Regions from separate parts of the Homo sapiens genome. Here regions 2, 3 and 4 are each reported to be linked to region 1. The links are microRNA targets in miRTarBase. Many come from high-throughput screens and were not tested one by one. Region 1 holds a microRNA gene; each other region holds the end of a gene's coding sequence.
The links. Region 1 holds the annotated microRNA hsa-miR-1200 (CUCCUGAGCCAUUCUGAGCCUC, at 2,804-2,825, shown strand). A microRNA usually pairs through its seed, bases 2 to 8, with sites in the 3' UTR of a target mRNA and lowers its output. Matches are read on the target gene's strand: a 7mer-m8 pairs with bases 2 to 8, a 7mer-A1 pairs with bases 2 to 7 and ends in A, and an 8mer does both.

Region 1 (4,149 bases):
GTAAAAGAGCTAATGAATCTGTGGGTTTGCTTTCAAAAATAGCGTCATTCAATCCGCTTCCTCTCCTTTATGTTAAATTACTTCAGTTGCACAACTAGACACCTGACCACCTATTGATTTTATTAGAACTTTAAACTGGTTTACTGCAAACAGATACCATACTTTGTTTCCCCCAAATTTGCCTCATTTCCATAAGGGACTAGAAAAAAACAAAATTAGCAAGGAGCAAATATTTAGAATTTCAAGAGTTTGATGGGGAATAGGGAAAACTCCACAAGAAAATAAAAGAGATCTGACAATGCCACACAGGCATACGCAGCGGGGTCTTACCACTCTTAGGTATTATTTGACTTTACCTGGGCCCTGTCCAATCTCTAAAGCCCAGCAAATGCCCCAGGTGAGATCCTTCCTCAGAGAACTTTCACAGGAGATATACAGCCTTGAAAAATAAAAGACTGCCATAATTGAGAGGTTTGTGCAAGGAATCCTATCCTAGCACTTTCTTCACTGAAGAGCATTTTGGGAGCTTTTCTGTGCGGAAAACGAGGAGTTCTAGAGAATGCATTATAGTTATTGAATGCCTACAAGTATAACCACAATTTTACTTGACTCTTGAGCCAGGTGCAAGAAAGAGAACCTCTTCCACCTGTCAAGGAAATCACAAACTAGGTGAGAAAGGAGTAGTAGTCATAATAATAGCAATAATAATAACATCAACATAATAAGAGTTGTCATTGTGTTTGCTGCTGTGTTTCTGGTGCCAGGACATAAATGTCTGCTCATGGGTGTCATAATTTTCACAAGACTTTAGATACTGTTTTTGTCCTCATCTTACAGTTGAAGCAACTAAGGCCAAGAGAGGTTTAATAACTTGCCTGTATCAGCTAGCTAGTAAGTGGCAGAGCCAGGTTCCAAAGGCAGAAGATTTGGTCCAGTGGGCCTGCCCGCTCTTGATCACAGGGCCACACTGCTTCTCAAAGACATTGTGTTGGTCCATTCAGGCTACTGTCACAGCGTACCTTAGACGGGGTAATTTGTAAATAACAAAAATTTGTTGCTCACAGTTCTGGAGGCTGGGAAGTCCAAAATCAAGGCACCAGCAAATGTGGTGCCTGGCAAAGGCTCACTTCCTGCTCCATAGATGATGCCTTCTTGCGTCCTCACATGGTGGAAGGGACTAATAAGCTCCCTTGGACCTCTTTTATAACTTCAGTAACCCTATTCATTACAGCAGAATCTTCATGACCTAATCCTCTCCCTTCAAAGGCTCCACCTCTTAATATTTTATTGCACTGGGGACTATATTTCAGCATATGAATTTGGTGGGGAGACACAAACATTCAGACCATAGATGAAGACCTTGACACTGCTCATGGAGACCTATAAAAAGGATTTGGGGTTCATAGAGAAGAGAGTGACTTGTGGGAGAGTTAAGAAGGACTTTTCAAGCAAGACGGCATTTCAGGAGACACAAGGTGGTCAGTCTAACAGTAGAAAATGAAATCAGCAGTAGAAAACAACATGGAAAATTCTGTTCTTAAATTACCATGTTGGAGAGGGATTTAATATGGCTATGTTTTATGCCAGATTTTTTTAAAAGCCTTTCATGCATAAAACTATAGTGATCTATTTAGATTCATTAAAATATGTGCACATATATATGCATGAATTTCATTATGTGGATATGTAAATTAATGTATTGGGTGAGAGATTATGTTTTAGAATATAAACCAAAAACCATGTTGTGATTAACTTTAAAGAACCATCTAGTTTTGGACATTGTGGCAGTTGTTTTTAATATCCACAAATCAGCTGAATTAGGAAACATAAACTATATGTTTGGACTTCATATTTAGAGCTATATGAGGTCAGCCTCTTCCTCCAGAGGCACTGCCAGATGATAGTTGCTTGCATGGGGCAACAGTCCAATGAAACAATTAATCCAAATCTCATTCAGAGATGAGAAGCAACTTATTTCATTCACTCATTCATTCATTTTCACATACTCATTGACTTCTATTCAGCAAATATTTTTCAGGTAGTTCATAAGCCCTGTAGTTGACTGTGTGGTGGCCTGGCCAAGGGGCATATTAGCCAGAGTAGAAGAGGCAAGAGCTGGGTCTTAGTGGCCAGGCTGAAGGGATAAAGTGTGAGGTTGGCCCTTGCAGAAGAAAGTGATTGGACATCATTCCAGAGTAGAGTGCCCAAAGGAAAGAACCAAAGCATCCCTGATCCAGGCCACTGTTGATGTCAAAAGGGGTGGGGCTTTTGGCATCTCATAGGGCGTTCCCAGTCGTGACACATTATAGTTCTGAATGGTTCACATAATTAAGGCATTGATTCGTTCCTTAAATGAATCAGAGGAAGGGAGATGGAAATGATTAGACAGGTTGTTTTATTTGCAGTCACATTAGCAATAGGGTTCAGGAAGGGCTCCCATTCTGATGGGAGCTTTGGATTGCAGAAACTCTTCCCCGTGAGCCCAGCATCGATCACAGAGCTTGGAAATACAAACTAGAGTTTCATGAGCAATGGGGAATCAGAGCTTCTTTTAGGATACTTGATACTGAGTGTGCAGCAACACACTTTGATTGGCAGCAGCCTCCCTTCCACAGTTGCCAGGCCTACTCTGTTCTAGGCACTGAGTGTACATTATCTAATTATCATAGCAACCCAGCAAGGTTGATGCCATTATCCCATTTTACAGATGAAGAGACTTAGCCCATAAGTGAGAGAACCAGGTTTCAAATCCAGAGTTCTGTGACCCCAAAGCCCACATTCTTCCTAGTTTACTATGCTACTTCTCCTGAGCCATTCTGAGCCTCAATCACTTGCCAGAGAGATTGGTTCAGGAATTTGTCAGGGATAGCCTGAAGTCCCAAAGTCTTCAGCCAGCATCTGAGCAGTGTTAGAAAAGGCTGAGACTCACACGATGCTATATGCTGTGGGAAATGTAATAGACATGAACGATTATCCTAGTCACTATTAACCAAATGCTGGATAACATGGAGCACATAGTGACATTCAACAGAGTTACATTCTCTGCCTTCTAGGATCTTGCAACCCAAGGTGCATATTTACTTGCTTGAATATTGAGCTGTGAGAAGAAAAGTTGCTACGTTTGTGCAAGTTCTATTTATTATGGATGCTAAATTCCTATAAGTTAGCTGAACCATCCCTAGAATAAAGTACTTTATTTTAGCCCAAGTGCCAACTGACTGACTGACTGACTGAATGAATGAATGAATGAATGAAGGCATGCTTGCTTGCTCTTATAGATTAACTCTCTTGCTATGGGTAAACCAAAAGAAAAAAAATATTTTTCCTTACCCCTTAAAGTGAGTCTACTTTGTTTTGTGGGAGGTAGCAATTTATAGACCTGTCTACACATTATTTTCTAAAACTCAAGTATTTTGGAAGAGCAGATGGGGTACCATACTGTATACACTAATCATATATTTTGAAATGTATTTCTTTTTGAGCAGTTTGGTGACGCTTTATTTAGCAAAAGCCCTTGAAAGTTTCAAAAGCAACAATCCAAAGAACATGAGTGGCTGAGAGCACAGCGGACAGACAGACCCTCCAGCACAAGGCTAATGCTTTTCAAAATGTACTGTGGACCCTGGCCCTGGCCCCTATTCCTCCTGCCCTTAGAGATGATGATACACATTGTCACTGGGGGAGGGAACGAGTGGATTGGGCCTGATTATCTGAATTTTCTGTGAATCCCCTGGGTGACTGTGATATGCACCCAGGGTGGAGAACTAGCCTTCTACACTCATATCTGAGTGCTACTCTTCTTACCTCATTCTCTTGAGACTCATATTTTCACTTATAAAATTATTAGAGAAGCAAAAGAAAACCCCATCCCTTTTACATTTTCTGAGAGCCACAGGGGGAGCAAATAGGTGTTGAGCACCTCCTACATTGCCAGAAGTTTGACTTATAGATCTGGTTTAATCTGTACAAGAACTCAACAATGTTTAAAGAATTAATTGGCCCTCAGATATGGAGTTGAGTTATGCATACTGCTCAGTTCATAGCTTATTGTCACCCTAAGGCCATGCAAGACCCTCCTCTTATTTTGTTATTGTTCCTCTTCACCCCCCATTCCCTACACCCATTTCCTTCCCTCCTCAGAGAACCACC
Region 2 (4,000 bases), not on the chromosome of region 1:
AGAGAAGGAATGACTGCTTAAGGGTACAGGGTTTCTTTTTGGGGTAATGAAAACATTCTGGAATTGATAATGATGATAATTGTACAACGTTGTGAATGTACTAACGGCCACTAAATTATACACTTTAAAATGGTGAATTTTATATGAATTTTACTTCAATTTTAAAAAAGAAAAAGAATGAAGTACTGCTGTGTGCTGCTATATAGATGAAACCGGAAAACATTATACTAAGTGGAAGATGCCAGTCACAAAAGACCACATATTATTATGATCCCATTTCTGTGAAATATCCAAAATGGGCAAATATATAGAGAAACAGCAGATTAGTGCTAGCCAGGGGTTGGGGAGGATTGGAGGGTGATATCTAAACAGTAGATTTTCTTTTGGGGTTGGTGAAAATGTTCTAAAATTGATTCTGGTGATGGTTGTACAATTCTGTAAATACACAAAAACCATTAAATCTTACACCTTACATGGGTAAATTTTATGGTAAATTGCATTTCAATAAAGCTTTTTTAAAAAAGAATCAGGGCTGGGTGCAATGGCTCACACCTGCAATCCCAACACTTGAGGAGGTCGAGGCAGGAGGATGGCTTGAGGCCAGGAGTTCAAGACCAGCCTAGGCAAGACAGCAAGACCCCCACCTCTACAAAAAATTAAAGGAAAAAAAAAAAGAATCATTGAGTTAGTGTGGAATGGACTCTGATTTCAAGGAAAAGGGAGGGATAAGATAATTTTTCTTTTTAAAAGAGAGAGGATCTATGTTGCCCAGGCTGGAGTGCAGTGGCTATTCACAGGTGCATTCATTGTGCACTACAGCCTCTAACTCCTGGGCTCAAGTGATCCACCTCAGCCTCTACATAGCTGGGACCATGCCTGGCTAATTTTTTTATTTTTGTAGAGACGGAGTCTTGCTATCCTCAAGTGATCCTCCCACCTCTGCCTCCCAAGTAGCTGGGACTATAGGGACATGCCACAGTGCCTGGCTAGAAATAATTTTTAATAGCGTAAATCAATGTACTAATGTCTTTATCTAATAGAATCTTATAGATACACCAGGAGAAAGAATAGACAGTGGTTGGCAGATCAGCAAATTAGCCTTAGGCTCCAGGCAAGGAGGCTACTGCAAAAAGTGCAGGGTACCTGGCTGAGAAGTGGAGGAACTAGGGCCTAAAATCCTTCCATGGGTGCTAGGGATGGAGGAAAGGTTTTTGTTTTGGTTTTTTTCCCCTTTCTCAAAAAGACACCATTTGCTCACCGAACTATGCTTGGGAGTTGTGTCCACCAGACTTGGGGAGAAGCGTTTTTCTAATTCATCTTACAGGCCAGCTGGGGCCAACTTCACCCCCTTGCATTATTAAACCTCTTTCTACCATGGTTAACAACCTATCCCTTTTTTTTTTTTTTTTTTTTTGAGAGAGAGTCTGGCTCTGTCTCCCAGGCTGGAGTGCAGTAGCGTGATCTTGGCTCACTGTAACCTCTGCCTCCCAGGTTCAAGCGATTCTCCTGCCTCAGCCTCCTGAGTAGCCGGAATTACAGGTGCACACCACCACACCTGGCTAATTTTTGTATTTTTAGTAGAGATGGGGTTTTGCCATGTTGGCCAGGCTGGTCTCAAACTCCTGACCTCAGGTGATCCACCCGCCTTGGCTCCCCAAAGTGCTGAGATTACAGGCATGAGGCACCACACCCAGCTGAACCATACTTTTCATCATCTTACTATTTGGCATCTGTAACACTAGGGACCACTGGCCATTAATAATCTGAACTTAGCCAGGTGCTGTGGCTCACACCTGTAATCCTAGTGCTTTGAGAGGCCAAGGTGGAAGGATCGCTTGAGGCCAGGAGTTCACGAACAGCCTGGGCAATGTAGCAAGACTCTGTCTGTACAGAAATTTAAAAATTAGCCAGGCATGGTCCCAGATACTGAGGAGGCTGAGATGGATCACTTGAGCCCAGGAGTTTGAAACTACAGGGAGCTATGATTGCACCACTGCCCTCCAGCCTGGACAATAGAGCAAAAATATGTCTTTAAAATGATAGTAACAATAAAAATAATTTCAATTCTTCCCTTAGCTACCTACCACAGCAGTGAACGTTTATACTTCACAACCACTACTACTCAGCTTCTCTACTTTATGCCAGCTAAAAGTAGGTGCTATCCCATGGTTTTAACATCTGTTCTGTTTTTCAGTGGTATCAGCTCCTCTTGTTCTAGGTACTGTCAAACCTCAAATCCCAGTCCTGATGCTTCTCTCCAGGGCCTCTTCCCAACTCTTTTGATGGACATCTCTAGGAGGATTTCATGCCAGCATTTCAAACATGACAGGAGTGCTGGGGTGAACAGAGGGCACAAAACATACACATGAGAAAAGAACCAGTGGATTCACACAATTTTGGCTTCAAGTCAGGAATAATGAATGGGACAAGGTGGAATGCTACATAAGATGGGCATGTAGATCTGATAAAGAGTGGCACAGGTTGGGAAACAAGGGAGGCTTCCACAGAAGGGAAGGGCAAAGGGTGTTCTATAGTGAAAAGGCCCAGTGGAGCGGGGGCATAGCACTATTTGGGGCTTCAGACAGTTAAAGTCGGTGCTGCATGATGCCTGGGCTTGTCTTCTCAGTCTTCTCTCTTTATCAGACAAAGAACAGGAACTTAACAAAATGTGTTGCATGGCAAAGGAAAATAGCGGTGGGATAATAGGATTGATTTGGGAAGAGGTGGAGGCAGTGAATTCAGACAACTCCAACCACTTCATAAAGGTTCTCAGGTGCAGCCAGGCTTTCCTAAGATGACTGATCTCATCTGTGCCTGGTGGCAGGAGAGACTGATCCTCCTCACAACCCCTATAGAACAGTGGGGCTCCCCCACATCTCAGACACACATAATTATATTATCATTTTATTACACTTTTTTTTAAATAGTAGAGACGGGGTCTTGTTATGTTCCACAGGCTGGTCTTGAACTCCTGGGACCAAGCAATCCTCCCACCTCTGCCTCCCAAAGTGCTGGGATTATAGGTGCAAGTCACCACGCCCGGCCTATTTTATTCCACTTCGGAGACCGCCCCCCTTGTCCCTCAGATGCATCCAAATCAGGAGTTAGGGATCATACTCCACTGTGGTCCTGAATTATAGAATAATGAAGTCCTAGATGTCAGCGGCCCCTGGCTGCATGATAGTAAGAGTATGGCTGAGCCTGTCTTGCAGATCATCCAGTACCTGTACAGGCCAGGCTACACTGTTCTCAAGCACTCTCTGTAGCCAAGTGCCAGTAATCACAGACTAGGCTACCTCTGCTGGGCCAGAAATAGCTGCCTGAACCAGGAGCTCACAGCACCATCCACTCTCATCACCAAAGCTATGCCCAGGAGAAGTCCCACGCTGCTCACAATGAAGCCCACAGCCTCAAATATGAACCTGCAAAGAAAGGCGGAGAATCTCAGGCAACAGAGTAGGTCTACTGCCTTTTCCCTGTAGAGGCAAAACCTTGGCCATCCTGGATGTTTAGGATCTTCATACTTTGTTCCAAGTTTCTCCCTCCCCACCACCTCTACTTCTCAAGCAAATCTACTCACTTAGGGGCAAACACTTTCCAGACCATGAGATGCCTGCGAAGGATGGAGGCTGCCAAGGCACAGGCCAGAATCTAGAGGAGGAGAGGAGGGGCCACGTTACTTGTGAAGGAGAGGAGGAAGCGGAGCAAAAGGAGAGTTTCTATAGGCCCCTGTAAAAAATGGAAGCAGGAGAATAGTGCATGTCAGTGGAAAAAATATTGCATGTCCTGGGCTAGGAGTTAGGAGACCTACTTCCTGCCCTGCCCCAAGCACTGACTCACTATGTGACTTTGGGCAAGTCAGTATCCATCTGCAATGCTAACACTCAGGCTGTGCCCCCAGGATGGAGGAAGATATCAGTGCCACATCTGCCTCTGGAGGAAAGGAAGAGGATCCATGACCACAGTTTGGGAAGAAAATCCTGGCTATCACCTCAGTTTT
Region 3 (4,000 bases), not on the chromosome of region 1:
GAGCAATTGGAAAATGTGAAATATTAATAACAAAAAGAAGAAAAATTCAACTATAATCTTACAATTAGTAGAGATAGCTACTAATATAACTATTATATATACTTCTCTTTTCCTATTAATATACAAGCATGTTTTTTAAAAAACTAAGACTATATTATATGTACTTTCTAATAAATATATTGTGACTATTATCCCAGGTTATCAAAATTTTTAGTAATATTTTAACAGCAGATACAAGCTATGGCTATGCCATTATTTATTTAAGATGCCAATGTTAGACATTTAGGTTGTTTTATGATATTTTTTGCTTCTCCTTTCCCATTGATTATTTATTACCTCAGATAAAAGTTCAGTCAATCCTCATTACCCATTTCTAAAAGTAGACACAACTACATTTAGGAATATTGCTTCAAACATAGCATATATATCTGATGTTGATATATTGCTTTTTTCATGTTTTCTCTTACAGTTCTTATAGTCATGAAATACCGTACTTGATTTGATGACAGAGATCTTCATTAAACAAGATCTGGGACAGTAATAAAAGATTGCTGCATAATTTAAATGAAACCTATGTGTATATAACTTTCAAAACTTCTTTTTCAAGAAACTAAGAGGCAAGTATCACTTCAAATTGGAACGTTGAGAATGTCCAATTATCTTCTCCCTTTCTAACAAAATGTTCTTTTAATAATTATGTTTAAGGCAAAGAGAACTAGCCTCTATTTTTCCATATTTCAAGGATCTAATTTGAAACTAGATACTTGCCAGTTCATTATTTGTGTATATAAACACTGATTATAATATTTCATATTAATATTTTAATGGCATAAGGACTTGCATTATTGCATTAGGGAGCGGGTCATGCTGGGGGTCAGGAAGCCTGTGTAGAGTACCAAATTATATGCTGAAAGAGATGCATAACCATTCTGTCAATATTTGCAGAAATATAGTTCCTTTCATATTACAGTTGTTTTGCAAGCAATTTCCACATTTATAGGTGTAACAAAAGCTAAATGTTGTAAATGTTGTTGCCCTCAGGTATAACTAAAAACATTCCAGTAAATATATTTTTGACTGTGTAAGAGAATGTGTAGTAATTTTTTTGGCATTGGATTATGGAAATGGAAATTTTTAAACAGTGTGAAAAAACATGGTATGGCATCATAAAACTGGAGATAATAAAGTTATTGAAGAGTGTCATTGGAGTATTTGAAAATGACCAATATATAGCTGCCAGTCATGGTCCAGTCTGTTTTCTGTTAAACTCCAATAAAGAGAGACCAGTCAGTCCTAATGTGAGTAAATGAAATTTACAGGTAACTTACTTACTCCTTAATTTTATTTTAGTTAATAGCCTCTAACTTCCAACTATCTCATTTACCAAAAGTACAAAAAGTAGCAAAACCATCTATTAATACTTTGAATTTTATATCTTTGCATTTCCTGTTCATCCTTGAGGAGATGTATGTTGCACAATCAAATTTTGCATCAGCCAACAGTAATGAGTAGTAGAAAGTCAGGAACCTATGTGTATATATATATATATATATATATATATATATATATATATATATACACACAAACACACACACACACACACACACACACGCACACATATGATAATCAGTCAGTCGGTAACCAAATGCTAGAGAGTGACCATTAACCTAAGCCTGTTTTTATAATGAAAAAATGTGTTAACTTTAAAATATGCCAACCTCCTTGTGTCTTTTAAACAAGTCAGAGTGAAAATACATTGTCCCCTAAGGTGTGGGGAGAGGAAGCTTTATAATAAAATTAGTGATTCTGCAGAAACTTGTGCACTGGATATCTTGACAATATGAATATAAAACTCCCTAAATTAAAAATAGGGTTAATAGAAATTATCAGTATTTAAATAGGGAAAAATGATTTTATGTTTATTTTATTTAGGTTTTATTTCTTTGGTCATCTTAATGCAAAATGAATAAAGCATAGAATCTGGGTTTGGTGTTTTTTTGTCTGTTTTTAAAATTCTACAGGATTATTACTAGGAGGCAAAAAATGCTGTTTAGAATGGAAAAAATTTGAAGAGAGAAAGCAGACTGAGACACTCAAGACACCTGCAAGTTATCTAAGAAGATCTAAATAGAATTACTAAATTTTATAGTTTGCTTAGAGCATTTAGAAGGAGATAAAGGTCTTACATACTATAGTGTATATTGTCTTTGGTCTCTATGCTCTTTGTAAATGTCAATTAATATAAACAGCATCTGAACAGCTAATAAATCTTTTAAGTTAAGATACCCAGAAAAATGAGCATTTTTAGAATTTCAGTAGCTAATAATTCAGGAATGGAAATATTTTAACTGAATGGACAGAATCAGTCCTAACATTTGTATGTATGTCCTTTATTTGAATTGGAACTAGGCTCATAAGTGGTTAATTTTCCATTAGTTGATGTAGAAATCTGGTTTCTCCATAATATCTACAAGTGAAGATGAAGATTACTTCTCAAAAAGTATCCATATTTCCAGTGTTCCTTTTAATAAAATATGCCACTTTTAAATAAATAATTACAAAATGTAAAATTATAAAATTTTTAAATTTAAATAATAAGTAACAGTAAAATTTTTTGACAATATATATGTCACTGTCTTTGTAATTTAAACATATTGCTGCCTGGGATATGGGTAACAGAATTATCACTCATGGAACTTTGTAGTAGTGATGGCTTGGTTTGTAATTCATCATTTCATCTTTCTTGGTCTTGATTAATCCTGAAATCCTTAAAATGGCTGGCATGGTTATGACTTTATTGTGGTAACCTTGGAGATATAAGCCCTCTTACGATCAAAAACAGAAGAAAAAAATATATTGTTCAAACTGATGCCAGGCCTACCTTTATTCCCTCCCTTAATTACTTTTTTTCTCATTCAGCTCAGATCATCCTGCACTTGAAAAATGAAGTTTTACCACCATCAAAACTATCATTATTTAACAACAAGTGAAGATCAACAGAAAAATTCAAGTAGCTTTGCAAATACTAGTTGATACTCAGTGAAATCACGTCACTATTTTGATGCCTGAATCCATACCTTTGTGATTTATGTTTAATTACAGAAGCCTATTGCCTTGCAGCAATTTTGTTGTTATAATACTGATTAATTGGTTACTCCTTCTTATTATAACTCAGTAATACCTGTGGTCATTTGGTTCCTCTATCCTGACAAAGTTCACTGGAAATTGCCCTCAGATTTTATAAACTGGGGGATTTCTTAATTAGATAAAAGTTCATTACTGAAGATGGAATATTATATAAGATGGAGGAAGGGTAATTAATAGACATGAGATATAGAAATACTTTGTTAGCCCTGCTATAGATTGCCTATTGTAGTCTTTCTGTGCATTTCAATAGTCTGTATTAGGAAATTATAACTTCAGCACTTTTGATAGCAAAAATTGGCATCTTTCAATTCTGTATAGTATGTGACTATCCTGTAAATGATAATATGTGTACAGACTGAGAAGGCAGGAATATAAAGTAATTGAAATCTCTCATTGCCGGTATACTCTAAAACATGCTTGATGCCTTGTCAGCATCATTGCACACATTGACTCTGTATTTACATCTGTATATACACTATGATTAGAAAATATGCAAGAAATTGTTTTTCCATGTTAAGAACAAATGCCATTAGAAGATGTCCCCTTAATTGTATTGTCAGAGTATTACTATGTCAAGGATGACTGTTCTGTTAACCTAATTTTGTGTTTTCACATGGAAATGTGATTGGACTCCATTTTTCTGTGAGTTGAGAGTAAGAGCATAAGTCAGTTTGAAAGCATTTACAAGTTTGTTTTAGAATGTAGTAAGGGCTGAAAGGTGCTCTACTTCTTAACTTGTTTTTTCCATGTTGTAGACAAATGAAATTTGTCTAAATGCTTTTGTCTAAAAATGCATTTGTCTAAATGCTTTAGATTGATGTAGGGTTTAGATCCTCTTTAATACTTTGAGATA
Region 4 (4,000 bases), not on the chromosome of region 1:
CACACATTTATTCTCTTACAGTTGTAGAGGTCAGAAGTATGAAATCAGCTTCACTAAGCTAAAATCAAGGGGCCAGCCAGCCTGTGTTCCTTCTGGGGGCTCTAGGAGAGAATCCAGTTCCTTGATTTTCCAGCTTCCAGAGGCTGCCTGGATTTCTTGACCAGTGGCCCCTTACACTAACTTCAAAGTACATCACTCCAACCTCGCTTCTGTCATCCCGTCTCCTCTCTCTGACTCTGACCTGGCTGCCTCTCTTATATAAGGACGCTTGTGATTACACCGGGCCCACCTGGATGACCCAGGATAATCCTCTTATCTCAAGATCCTTAATCACGTCTGCAGAGTCCCTTTTACCATGTAATGTAATATAAATATTCGCAAGATCCAGAAATTAGGACTTGTACATCTTTGGAGGACCACTATTCAGCCTTCCATAGCTACCTAGAAATAGGATGACTTAGTTAAAGGAGATGTGTATTTTACATTTAAATCACCATCTACAAATTGTATCTATTTGATATGAACACTCGCATTAACACTGCTGGCACTGGCTTTTTGGAGGGCAATGGACAACACTAATTAAGGTTCAAAGTCTTCACTGTTTCCTGCCTTCCCTACATTGCAAGACAGGGTTGGAGATTTTCCTCTCATTAATCTTTCACTAAATTGTCTTACCCTGAAAGAAAAAAAAGTCAGTATCTTCAGGAGGGATCTAGGAAAATAGAACTGGGAATTTTGACCAAAAATTTAGAGTGAGAAGTTGGCTTCCAGTAGGAGTAGGCGGGGGGGTTGTCTGAGCGGGAGTGGAGGTGAGGTGGCCGGGGGGAACATCCAGGCATGCTGGGACTCCCACAGTAGGGTGTGATCACCAGGAGCTATGGCCATCTGAGAGGACACAGTGGGAGTACAGCAGGAGGGCTGGAGAACTGCTGCCAACTGGAGCCAAGGAGGGCCAGGCTACTGAAACTGTGTCACCAACAATGGGTCAGATGTGGGGAACAGGTGTCTGAAAGCCTGGAGCCACCCTCCCGAATTGAGACTGCAGAAAGACATTTAGGCCAAGGCTGGCTGACTTAACCTGGTGCCCTCTGCCTCTGTCTATGCAACAGCTGATGAGGAGTGGCCTGTTCAAAAGCTGCTTTCCCGTAACTGGACACAAACAGATGGGAAGGGTGATGAGGTGAGGAATGAACAGCCAGGGATACTATATAGCCAGCAATGGCTATAAAAACTTCCTTATGTCTTAGTCAAAACATCTTGCCATATAATAGAACCAGGATTTTGAACCTAGTTCACTTTAACAGCCATGTTCTGTTTAAAGTCATGTTCTGCTGAAATCAGAGTTCAAAATTCTGAAAACTATTGATTTAGGGAGTGTGTATAGCTAAGGAGATAACTGACTACAAGCCATGGATCATCATCCCTGATAGAGAAGTTTGGAAGCCTTGTCCCACCCCATCTCTGGCTGTAATAATGAGAAATTAAGAAGTGTGATGTATGCATTTAAGACTATAAATGTTTCTCTAAGTACTGCATTAGCTGCATCTCACAGGTTAATGTGTCATAATTTCAAAATCACCCAGATCAAAATGTTGTCCAATTTCCTTTCTGATTTCTTATTTGAGCCATTGATTATTTAGAAATGTGCTGCTTACAAAGCCATAAAGCTTCATTAGGAAAAGACTCAGGGTCCATGTTAGCAGACAGATGCACCATAAGAAGAGCTTACTTATGAAATAAAAGCCAAGCCTTCCAAGTGTTCGTTCAAAAAAAGATGTTCTACCCTCTCTAGGCAGGGTGAAGCTCTTGCACTGTAAGCACTGACTCCTCTAGGAGTTTGCCCTATTACTGAGGGGTACTTTCCTAGCCCCCCTCCTTCTCCTTCCCACATGGGACAACCCAGGAAAGCACCCTCCCATTTGCTCCTTAGGTGTACCAACAGTCCTTCGCAGGTGAAGTGTCACTGAGAGCCTGTCCCTGGGTGCTCCTTAATCCTACCACAGCTGACATGGCTGCAAAAACATACTGAGCTCATTGGGAGAACAACAAGGAAAGAAATACAGAAATGTTAAGAGGCCAATATGAAACCTACTCTCTGGGTCTGCCCCACCCACATCTCCTGTAAGAAGCGTCTGTCTCTGGGCCCACAGAACCAGGATCACTCCTCAGTCCCTCTCCTGGGTGCCAGCTCCCCAGCTCCCAATGTCCTCTTCCTTCTCCTCATCCCCTTCCTCTAGAAGCCAGTCTCCAGTCCATTCAATTCCAACCAGCAGACACCCACCAATGGTTCTGCTGTGAGTGGGGCATAGTGCTGGGACGGATGGGGCAGAAGCAGTGCTGATGTTCAGGGCCACAAAATAGAGTCTTCTCTTCACAGTGGACACTCCTTCAAGTTCGAAGTAAACCTGGCTCCCTCAGAGATGCTCAGAGGCCTGAAGTCATCCTGTGGTTTATTGATGAATAAACAGAACACAAACATGGGCACAAAGAGGCTTGGAAACAGCAGGGTCCATCTTGGCACAGCCTCCTCACCTCAAGGGGCATCCAGCCACATCTTCAGACACACAGGGCAGTGCTGGGGCCTGCACAACCTTATGTTCATGCCCTTCGGTTCCACGTGGCACAAAGTGGCACAGGGGGTGGGAGACTTGCAGAGTGGGGTGTGGAAGGGGACGCTGGCCCTGGCTTTAGGGGACGCTCTGGTTCAGTGACAAGGATCTCACAAGTGCTCAGGGAGGCTGGGGCTGTGTTTTCCACTGACACCAACAGACACTCTCTTGCTAAACAGTCCCATGGAGCACAGAGACTGGCACTGGCTGAGCCACACAACCCATAATCAGGCTCCTCTGAGCCCGACTCTGTCATGGCCTTGGAGAAAAGGCACACTGCAAAGCCTGGAGCTGCATTTGCAGGCTGAAGGTACCCCCTCAGCAACCTAGGGCCTTGAAGGCATGGGCTGTCAACCAGCATCCTAGATAAGTAGTGCTGGGCCCTCACTGAGGGTTTCACTCCCCCAGCACCGCCTCACAAGGCCGGCCTGCCTGCTGGGAAGGTTGCCTTGGGGTAAGGGTACAGGCTTAGGTCTTCCAAATCCTTTCCTGAATTACCATATCAATACCAGGACACCAGGCACCTTTCTTTGGACTACAGGAGATGCGAAGGTCACTGAGCTCACTCTGATTTCACAGATCTTGGTGAGACAACCTGGGCCCTAGAATCCACCATCTTTGTCTTTGGGAACTCCTTCTGGGCAGCCATCTGCAGGCCTGAGTGTTGCAGGTATAGCCCTCTTTCCTTTTACTGTGTCTGGTTTCTTGTGTAGTCAAAAAGGCCAAGAGAATGGGCCACTGCATCCTGCCCCTGTGCTTGGTCTTGGGTCCAGCTGTGGTTCCCATGTAAGCACCATGCACCTTCCCATCTTCCCACAGCTCTCACCCCCTCCACCAAGAGCTGTGGCCAGGGTCACAGAGGTTCAGAGGCTGCTGCCCCTGGACCTAAAGCCCATTTTCCATCTCAAACCAGGGACAGAGGTGAGCTCCCTGAGCCCTCAACTGTGGCACTTTCCCATGTGCGGAAAATGGGGAGCCCAGAAAGGGAGCCAGGATGGGCAGGGGTGACCCTTTCTGGTTACTCCTGTGACCTCTTCCCACCATTCCATGCTCAACACGTGCCAGATTTCTACCACCTTTAATACCCCCATTCACATTGGGCCAGCTGGAAACAGAAAGTGGGGCTGGCAGAGGTGGTCCAGCTAGCCCGGGCCCCCAGGCCTCAGGACCACTGGCAGGCACAGTCGGTGGGCTCCTGCACTGTATAGGGCACCCAGGTGGCATTGGTGGCACAGAAGAGCTGCACAGAGCGCCGCTGCAGGCCCACCTCACGGCAGCACTTGCAGAATCGGGCATAGGTGTTGATGTTGTAGTTGTAGATGCTGGCGGATGGGCACCTCCCATCGCAGGACACTAGGTTCACCTGGAACGGGCAGGCCAGTGAGGCAGTC

Region 2: the mRNA of PIGO is a reported target of hsa-miR-1200. The part of its 3' UTR that is shown has no 7-base or 8-base seed match.
Region 3: the mRNA of VAMP4 is a reported target of hsa-miR-1200. Seed matches in the 3' UTR shown: 7mer-A1 at 875-881, 7mer-A1 at 1,520-1,526 and 7mer-A1 at 2,328-2,334.
Region 4: the mRNA of OTOG is a reported target of hsa-miR-1200. The part of its 3' UTR that is shown has no 7-base or 8-base seed match.

Annotation. Positions count from the first base shown.
Region 1 is chr7:36,918,079-36,922,227 of GRCh38, reverse strand. It overlaps MIR1200 (microRNA 1200), which reads left to right and starts at 2,796; the gene lies at 2,796-2,871. All of the region lies in intron 16 of ELMO1 (engulfment and cell motility 1), which reads left to right.
Region 2 is chr9:35,085,800-35,089,799 of GRCh38, forward strand. PIGO (phosphatidylinositol glycan anchor biosynthesis class O) reads right to left here. Exons shown (of 11, transcript NM_032634.4): 10 at 3,581-3,651; 11 at 2,889-3,422. The coding sequence ends at 3,293. Among named protein-coding and RNA genes, the nearest start is that of FANCG, 7.9 kb to the left of the region's middle.
Region 3 is chr1:171,701,004-171,705,003 of GRCh38, reverse strand. VAMP4 (vesicle associated membrane protein 4) reads left to right here. Exons shown (of 8, transcript NM_003762.5): 8 at 470-4,000. The coding sequence ends at 498. Among named protein-coding and RNA genes, the nearest start is that of VAMP4, 39 kb to the left of the region's middle.
Region 4 is chr11:17,645,716-17,649,715 of GRCh38, reverse strand. It overlaps OTOG (otogelin), which reads right to left. Exons shown (of 56, transcript NM_001292063.2): 56 at 3,672-3,972. The coding sequence ends at 3,772. Among named protein-coding and RNA genes, the nearest start is that of LINC02729, 49 kb to the left of the region's middle. RefSeq lists enhancers at 3,466-3,966, 3,967-4,000.